Regions from separate parts of the Homo sapiens genome. Here region 2 is linked to region 1. Evidence: fine-mapped expression QTL. A gene starts in region 1. The other region holds a variant in brackets. All regions are shown on one strand. Distances are from middle to middle.

Region 1 (4,385 bases):
AGCTGAGGCAGGAGAATCACTTAAAACCAGGAGCTGGAGGTTGCAGTGAGCCAAGATCGTGCCACTGCACTCCAGCATGGGCAAAAAGAGTTAGACTCCATCTCAAAAAAAAAAAAAAAAATTCAATGTTATTATTAATTATTTTACAGGATGTAAGAAAGGATTTGAGAACAGAGAGACATTTCAGACTATGGACATAATGACTTAACATTGTGAATGTGACAATTCTCTAATACAATATTCTGCAAGTTCTATGAGCTTCTACTGAAAACTTGAGAGTTTCTTTCTTTTAGGAATTCCAAAAATTTGCTCTAAAATTTTAAGGAAGAATAAAGATTCACAAATGGCTAATTCAATTTTGGCAAACAAAGTTAAAGAAGGGACATGCATCTCATAAAATAAAATGACATAGCAGAAAGACATATTTAAAAAAAAAAACAAAACAAAACACTGTGTTAATGTTGTAGGAACTGAGAGACAAACCAATGACACAGAATGAAGAATGAAATTAAAAACCCAGTCCCATGTGTAAATGAGAACTTAATAAGTCAATAGGGAAAGGACAGACTGTTTAGGAGACAGTGTTAGGAAAGCTGATCCATACTATGGAGGAAAAATCAAGCTCATAAAAAATAGATTCCAGTTGGATCCAAGAACAAAATCTGAATGGGAAAAACTATAAAAGTAATAGAAGAAAATAGAAAAGACTACATTTTTTATCCAGGGAGACAGAATACTTTCAGATTTAGAAGACACAAAATTTCAGAGAAAAAAATTCTGAAGAGTTGGCTATACCAAAATTTAGGATGTCTTCCAACCAAAGTTCACAATAGATAAAGTTGCCATAAAAAACAGAGCGTTCTCAGAGAAAAGTATCTGCAATGTCTAAATCCAGGAAGGCATTAATACCTAGAAATACAAGCAACTCTTGCAAATCAGAAAGGAAAAGAAAAGAAACCCAATTGAAAAATGGACAACAGGTGTGAACAGACAATTTGAAGAAGGGGAACTCCAAATGGCTAACAGATATATGAATTGATGCTCAAACTCACTGTAATCACAGAAATGCAAGTTAAAACATCTACAGTATATCACTTTGCAACCATCAGGTTGGCAAAAGTTAGAAAAACAAATAACACCAAGTGTTGGTGAGAGAATGGGAAAACGTAAACATTCCTATTCTGCTGGTACAGGTGAAACCTGAAGCAGCCACTCAGAAAAAGAATTACCAGGCAATATTTAGTGAGACTAAATGTGCATATGTTCTATGACCGAGCAATCCTCCTCCAAGAATGTATCCCAGAAAAATATTGAGTCAAGTCCAATGGGTACATGCATGAGGATGTCCAACACAGTGTTTTGGTGATAATGGGAATTTTGAAGCAAGCTGAGGATCCACAGTAAGGAATGGATAACAGATCAATGTGCATGATGACATTTTAAACCACAACTTTTGCATACAGCCACCTGGATATATCCTACAAACATATTGTCAAGTGAAAAATAAAAAACCCATCATTAATTCTAAATCACAACATTTACGTAAATTTAAAACACAATGGGCAACCACTCCATCTTGAAAGATATTGAGGTGTCCAAGGATTTGCGTGAAACAGGTTGGATGGATGCAAGCGGCAGGAGGAAAAAGGCAGCTAAGATGGGATGGGGAAGGAAACTTGAATAAATGGAGGGTTTTTAATGGGCTGATGCTCATGGTGTGTCTTAAACTAAGGAGTGTAGTTAATTCTACACTTTGCCCTGAGGTCTAATTTTTTTTTTTTTTTAAGAGACAGCATCTCGCTCTGTCTTCCAGGCTGGGGTGCAGTGGCGGGACCATGGCTCACTACAACCTCAATGTGCCAGGCTCAAGCGATCCTCCCGCCTTGGCCTCTCAAGTAGGTGGGACCACAGGTGTGTGCCACCATGCCTGGCTAATTAAAAAAAAAAATTGTAGAGATGAGATCTTGCTATGTGGCCCAGGCTGGTCTCAAACTCCTGGCCTCAAGCAAACCCCAAAGTGCTGGGGTTACAGGCATGCACCACCACGCCCAGCCCTAAGGTCTATTGTTTTTTTAATTAACTCACAGGGTTTGACAATTACAGGAGAAAAAAAAAATGATTTCAAATGTTTCTATCAAATAGTTTTTCTACATCTATTGATAATAATGATTTTTCTATAATAGATGTAGAAAAAGCATTTGATAAAATTCAATACCTCTCCATGATTTAAAAAATAATTCAAAGCAAGATAGAAGAGAATTTTTTAACCTGATAAAGGGTATTTATAACAGCTTTGTAGCTATAAAGGTGACCCTGGAGGCAGATCTGGGCTGAGTGAGTCACAGGAGTGGGGGAAGGTTAAGCCTCCCGGTCATGGTCTGTTACATAAAGAACCTGGAGGGGAGAGCTCTGAAGCTGGAAATTCGAGGGGCACCCAGGGGTCCCCCGTGGTCCCAGCAACACAGAATTTCACATTGGTACATCTTCCTCTCGTAGGGATGAACCAGACTTTGAATAGCAGTGGGACCGTGGAGTCAGCCCTAAACTATTCCAGAGGGAGCACAGTGCACACGGCCTACCTGGTGCTGAGCTCCCTGGCCATGTTCACCTGCCTGTGCGGGATGGCAGGCAACAGCATGGTGATCTGGCTGCTGGGCTTTCGAATGCACAGGAACCCCTTCTGCATCTATATCCTCAACCTGGCGGCAGCCGACCTCCTCTTCCTCTTCAGCATGGCTTCCACGCTCAGCCTGGAAACCCAGCCCCTGGTCAATACCACTGACAAGGTCCACGAGCTGATGAAGAGACTGATGTACTTTGCCTACACAGTGGGCCTGAGCCTGCTGACGGCCATCAGCACCCAGCGCTGTCTCTCTGTCCTCTTCCCTATCTGGTTCAAGTGTCACCGGCCCAGGCACCTGTCAGCCTGGGTGTGTGGCCTGCTGTGGACACTCTGTCTCCTGATGAACGGGTTGACCTCTTCCTTCTGCAGCAAGTTCTTGAAATTCAATGAAGATCGGTGCTTCAGGGTGGACATGGTCCAGGCCGCCCTCATCATGGGGGTCTTAACCCCAGTGATGACTCTGTCCAGCCTGACCCTCTTTGTCTGGGTGCGGAGGAGCTCCCAGCAGTGGCGGCGGCAGCCCACACGGCTGTTCGTGGTGGTCCTGGCCTCTGTCCTGGTGTTCCTCATCTGTTCCCTGCCTCTGAGCATCTACTGGTTTGTGCTCTACTGGTTGAGCCTGCCGCCCGAGATGCAGGTCCTGTGCTTCAGCTTGTCACGCCTCTCCTCGTCCGTAAGCAGCAGCGCCAACCCCGTCATCTACTTCCTGGTGGGCAGCCGGAGGAGCCACAGGCTGCCCACCAGGTCCCTGGGGACTGTGCTCCAACAGGCGCTTCGCGAGGAGCCCGAGCTGGAAGGTGGGGAGACGCCCACCGTGGGCACCAATGAGATGGGGGCTTGAGAGCCGCCCACAGGTGCTTCCCACCTGTGCGAGCCCATGCCCTGGAGATTCCCGAGCCGTGAGCTGCCTCCCACCTCGTCCCTGCCAAGTGTCTGGCCCGCCTTCTTGGGGGAGCCCCAAGGACTTTGCAGCTGCATGTGGGGGTCACTTCCCTGCATGTCAAAACTCCCCACAACACCTGTGTCCTGGATCTCACAATGCAACCCCGCTGGAAGATGCAATTTATTTGTTTATAGCAGATTATCTGGTTGGGGGAAAATATTAGCTTTTAGCCCTACCCTGCTTTAAGCTGGTTATCTATGGGTGGATAACAGGAATCTCATTTGAATATGAAAGCTTTCTCCCAACCACCTTCTCTGCCTAAGACGGCATCTTTGTGGAGGAGGCAGGTGACCTCGGGTGATCTTTGGCCCTATGCTGGTCCTTGGGTGGCATCAACTGGCCACCAAGGTGGTGCCCCCGTGCACCTTTCCCCAGGTGTGCCTGAAGTCTGGCAAGTAAACGGTGTCGCCATCGCCGACCCGGATCTCGCTGGCTGTGGGCCATGAGACTCTGCCCCACCATCCCTCTGACCCCTGGCCAGCCCTTGACCCCTGGCATTTGCTATGAGGTCGCCTTACCCTGTCACCCCTCGCACCCAGGGCAGGCCTGTTCGCTTTCCTCCAGGCCGCACTGGGAAGGGAAGAGCCTCTGCCTGGCTTCACTGGCAGTCACTCCAGCAGATGCTGATAGGACAGTGCCCCAGGCAGTGGAGGGCAGCCTTCCAGGCAGTGTCCCCCAGAGCCAGAGTCTCATACCTCACTGACTGTCCCTCCCAGGGCCCCCTCACTTTGCCCAAAAGCCCAAAGACGGAACATCTGGGACACACATCAGCTGGCTCCACTCTCCTCCCTCCCCCTTTCCTTCCCACAGTCCCCTGGG
Region 2 (4,385 bases), 24 kb before region 1:
ATAGTTTCGTGTTTGTTGAAACATTGCAAGATTTTGCAAGAATAGTACAATGCCCGCCAATACCTCACCTCAGCTCAGTCATCGTTAACCCTTCACCACAAGTGCTTTCTCTCTATCTCTTGACAGATAGGCTTTTTTTCCCAGAATGATTTGAAAGTAAATTGCAAGGCTGGGTGCGGTGGCTCACGCCTCTAATCCCAGCACTTTGGGAGGCCAAGATGGGCGGATCACCTGAGGTCAAGAGATCGAGACCAGTCCGGCCAACATGGTGAAACCCCATCTCTACTAAAAATACAAAAATTAGTCAGGCATGGCGGTGCGTGCCTGTAGTCCCAGCTACTCGGGAGCCTGAGGCAGGAGAATTGCTTGAACCTGGGAGGCGGAGGCTGTAGTGAGCCAAGATCGGGCCACTGCACTCTAGCCTGACAAAGCAAGACTCTGTCTCAAAAACAAACAAACAAACAAAAGTAAATTGCAGACACCAAGCCCTTGATGCCCAAATAGCCTGTATCTTCTAAGAACAAGGACGTTCCCGTAGCCACATAGTGAAAATGTGCGTAGCCACAGTACATTGTCACATTCAAAAGCTGCAACACCGATGCAATGCCATTATCTCTGCATCGTCCATACTCACATTTCCCCAGTGGTCCCAACGATATCCTCTGCAGCAGTTGTTGAGATCCAGCGTATAATCCAGGATTCTAACACTGTGTTTAGGAGTCATGTCTCTTTGCTCTTCTTAAAAATGGAAAGGCTCAGCCAGGCGCAGTGACTCACGTCTATAATCCCAGCACTTTGGGAGGCAGGTGGATCACTTGAGGTCAGGAGTTCGAGACCATCCTGGCCAACACGGCGAAGCCCCGTCTCTACTGAAAATACAAAAATTAGCCGGGCATGGTGCCGCGTGCCCGTAGTCCCAGCTACTCAGGAGGCTGAGGCAGGAGAATCGCTTGAACCTGGGAGGCAGAGGTTGCAGTGAGCCGAGATCGTGCCACTGCACGCTCCAGCCTGGTGACAGAGTGAGACTCTGTCTCAAAAAAAAAAAAAAAAAAAAAGGGAAAGGCTCTGCAGTTTTTTGTGCGACTTGGACGTTTTTTGGACAGTCTACTCTGACCGGTGGGCAGCCTGGCACCCTTCCTGGGCACTGTCTGGTGCTACCTCTACTCCTATAGGCACCATTGTGTGCTGCTAGCTCTAGACGCTGGGACGGAGAGTTAACATCAGGTGAGGTCAGGGGCGTTTGAGGATAGAGTTGCAGCCAGTTAGCTGCTCCACAGCCACTGCCTTACAGACCCCCTCCCTGCCCCAAGTCCCTAATTGGGACCCCCCCCCTCCCCCACGCTGGGCCCCAGATGCAGGTCTGTGGGTGGGGGCCAGCCGGCATCACAGGTGTCCCTCTCTGCACCTGCGCAGATGTGCCCTGGCCTGAGCGAGGCCCCGGAACTCTACAGCCGGGGCTTCCTGACCATCGAGCAGATCGCGATGCTGCCGCCTCCGGCCGTCATGAACTACATCTTCCTGCTCCTCTGCCTGTGTGGCCTGGTGGGCAACGGGCTGGTCCTCTGGTTTTTCGGCTTCTCCATCAAGAGGAACCCCTTCTCCATCTACTTCCTGCACCTGGCCAGCGCCGATGTGGGCTACCTCTTCAGCAAGGCGGTGTTCTCCATCCTGAACACGGGGGGCTTCCTGGGCACGTTTGCCGACTACATCCGCAGCGTGTGCCGGGTCCTGGGGCTCTG[C/T]ATGTTCCTTACCGGCGTGAGCCTCCTGCCGGCCGTCAGCGCCGAGCGCTGCGCCTCGGTCATCTTCCCCGCCTGGTACTGGCGCCGGCGGCCCAAGCGCCTGTCGGCCGTGGTGTGCGCCCTGCTGTGGGTCCTGTCCCTCCTGGTCACCTGCCTGCACAACTACTTCTGCGTGTTCCTGGGCCGCGGGGCCCCCGGCGCGGCCTGCAGGCACATGGACATCTTCCTGGGCATCCTCCTGTTCCTGCTCTGCTGCCCGCTCATGGTGCTGCCCTGCCTGGCCCTCATCCTGCACGTGGAGTGCCGGGCCCGACGGCGCCAGCGCTCTGCCAAGCTCAACCACGTCATCCTGGCCATGGTCTCCGTCTTCCTGGTGTCCTCCATCTACTTAGGGATCGACTGGTTCCTCTTCTGGGTCTTCCAGATCCCGGCCCCCTTCCCCGAGTACGTCACTGACCTGTGCATCTGCATCAACAGCAGCGCCAAGCCCATCGTCTACTTCCTGGCCGGGAGGGACAAGTCGCAGCGGCTGTGGGAGCCGCTCAGGGTGGTCTTCCAGCGGGCCCTGCGGGACGGCGCTGAGCTGGGGGAGGCCGGGGGCAGCACGCCCAACACAGTCACCATGGAGATGCAGTGTCCCCCGGGGAACGCCTCCTGAGACTCCAGCGCCTGGAGGAGGCAGGGGCAGGAAGCGGCCTCCAAGACCCTTCGCCTTGGGACAGGAATGGGCACCTGCTTCTGAGTCCATACAGGAGAAGAAAGATCTGTTTCCTCTCCTCGGGCCTCCTTCTCCCTGGGCTGGGGACTCCAGGGGTGGCTGGGAGACTGGGCAGCCACCAGCAAACAGACCCTGTGGCCCCTGCCCGGCTCCCCCACCCATTCTGCTCCCCTAGAGACCTCTTGTACAGAAGTTGCCCCCAGGTGGTGGGGCCCCTCCTTGCCCTAGGCTGGTTGGTAAAAGAGAGGAGGTCAACACCCAGCCTAGCCACCTCTGCCTCTTGGGTCAGCCCTCCTTGACTGTGTCCCAGCCAGCACCAGGCCAGCAGCCTCATCCCTGCCATTCAGGGCTGTTCCAGAGATTCGATCCTCTTAAGGCATTATCAGTGAGCAAATGTGAAGGAAATGGTGTCTGGAAGAAAGTTCTGGTTCACATGCCTTGTAGCTAAGTCTTTCTGCAAACAACCTCCCTTCCCCCCGTCGAGTCATTTGGTGACTTTGATGGGGGGATTTCTGGTTATGTCAAGGCTCTGGAGACAGGAAGGGCCTTTGGCCGCCTTGGGTAGTTGACCTGCCTTTTCTGACTCCGGGACGAGCCAGTCCTAGGCTGCCTCCGGGAGCACTTGAGGTATCCCGCAGGCCATGAGGACCCACTGGGCAGCTCCTGGACAGCCTCTTGGCTCCAGCCCCCACCCGAAAGTGGACACTGGCTCCGCCCTGGCCACCTGGGGACTGGCACTGTGGTGCACAGTGGCCCAATGTGGCCAACGGAAGTTTTATAAAAGACAAAATGTATATCAATAAACATTTTATAACTTGCAGCCAGGAAGGCTTCATGCCCACAGTCCTACCCTGGGTCTCTGTTTCCGACAGTGAGGACGCCCAAGGGCACAGAGTCCCGGGACGGGTGGCACCCCCCGCCAGCTCTCCCGCACACTTTGCTCTTTGCCTCTGCTCTCAGGCCTCCTCCTGGGGCTGGGTCTGCACACACCCGTGTTCCCGCTCCTGTGGCTTGTCCACTCCCTGCCAGAGGGAGCCGTGGTCAGCCAGGCTGTCCTGTGCCGGCGTATCCCAGTGCCCCTTCTCAGCTCGGAGGCCCCCACGGCCTCTGGGAGCCACAGCTCTCACCTCCTCCATGCCAGGCTCTGGGCCGGCCACCATGGTCCTGCCTGTGTCCACCGGAGGCTCCGTGGAGTGGATTGCTGCCTCTCCTCCTGTTGCCCCCGTTCAGGATGCCCCTCTCTGTCTTGAGATCCCTGAGCCAGCCTCCCAGTGCCCAGACATCTCTCTACAACCCAGCGATAGGCTGGGAGCCCTCCCAAGATGACAGCCCAGCCAGCGCCACGCTAGAAGGGTTCCTGCCTGGCCCTTTTGCCTCTGGTCAGCCCCCAGAAGGGCCCCATCCTGGGTTCCTGGTGTGCAACCTAGGACCCTGGCTCCTTTGAGACAAGCCTTAAGGCAAGCCTGCTCACCCCATGGTCCCATGGAGAGAGATCATGGCAGAGGTGTTGGTGCCCCCAGTCAGGAAACGTGGCTGACAGAGTTGGGCCCCTCGTCTGCAGAGCAGAGCCAGGAGCAGGCAGGCGGGCAGCACTCCGAGCTCCAGGTGGGAATGAGTAGAGGCGTGGGCAGTACCACCAGGTTCACGCACCCAGCCACCTGGAACGTGGCCTTCTAACTGCAGGCCCTGGAGCCTGCTCAGCCTGCCCCTGGTGAAGTGGTCCAGCCCTCAGTGGGCTGACCCCCCAGTTCTGTGTCCCTGATGATCCACTGCCCGGCCAACCTGACCTCCACTGCCCTCCTGCCCCTGCTCCTCAGCCCACTGCTCCTCCATGCTCCCCTTTCTAACAATCCTGGTCAGGTCCTCTCAGCAAGACCACCGCTCTAGGAAAAGAGGGGATCTCATGTGGCCCAGATGTCGTAGTTCCA

Which allele goes with the higher level. Alleles are on the strand shown, and positions count from the first base shown. SD is a standard deviation of normalised expression in the study named.
For the expression in esophagus muscle of the gene that starts at base 2,499 in region 1, allele T in region 2 goes with a lower level than allele C (moderate effect, 0.60 SD a copy in GTEx).

The links. PIP is the estimated chance that this variant, and not a neighbour inherited with it, causes the effect.
Region 2: its variant is the best candidate, but not a certain one, in a credible set for the expression of MRGPRD in esophagus muscle (GTEx, PIP 0.83).

Annotation. Positions count from the first base shown.
Region 1 is chr11:68,979,100-68,983,484 of GRCh38, reverse strand. MRGPRD (MAS related GPR family member D) reads left to right here and starts at 2,499. Exons shown (of 1, transcript NM_198923.2): 1 at 2,499-3,464. The coding sequence starts at 2,499. The coding sequence ends at 3,464. RefSeq lists an enhancer at 3,010-3,519.
Region 2 is chr11:69,003,290-69,007,674 of GRCh38, reverse strand. It overlaps MRGPRF (MAS related GPR family member F), which reads left to right. Exons shown (of 3, transcript NM_145015.5): 3 at 1,414-3,277. The coding sequence ends at 2,397. Among named protein-coding and RNA genes, the nearest start is that of MRGPRF-AS1, 6.9 kb to the left of the region's middle. RefSeq lists enhancers at 1-56, 3,303-3,804. The variant C/T (reference allele first, on the strand shown) is at 1,740.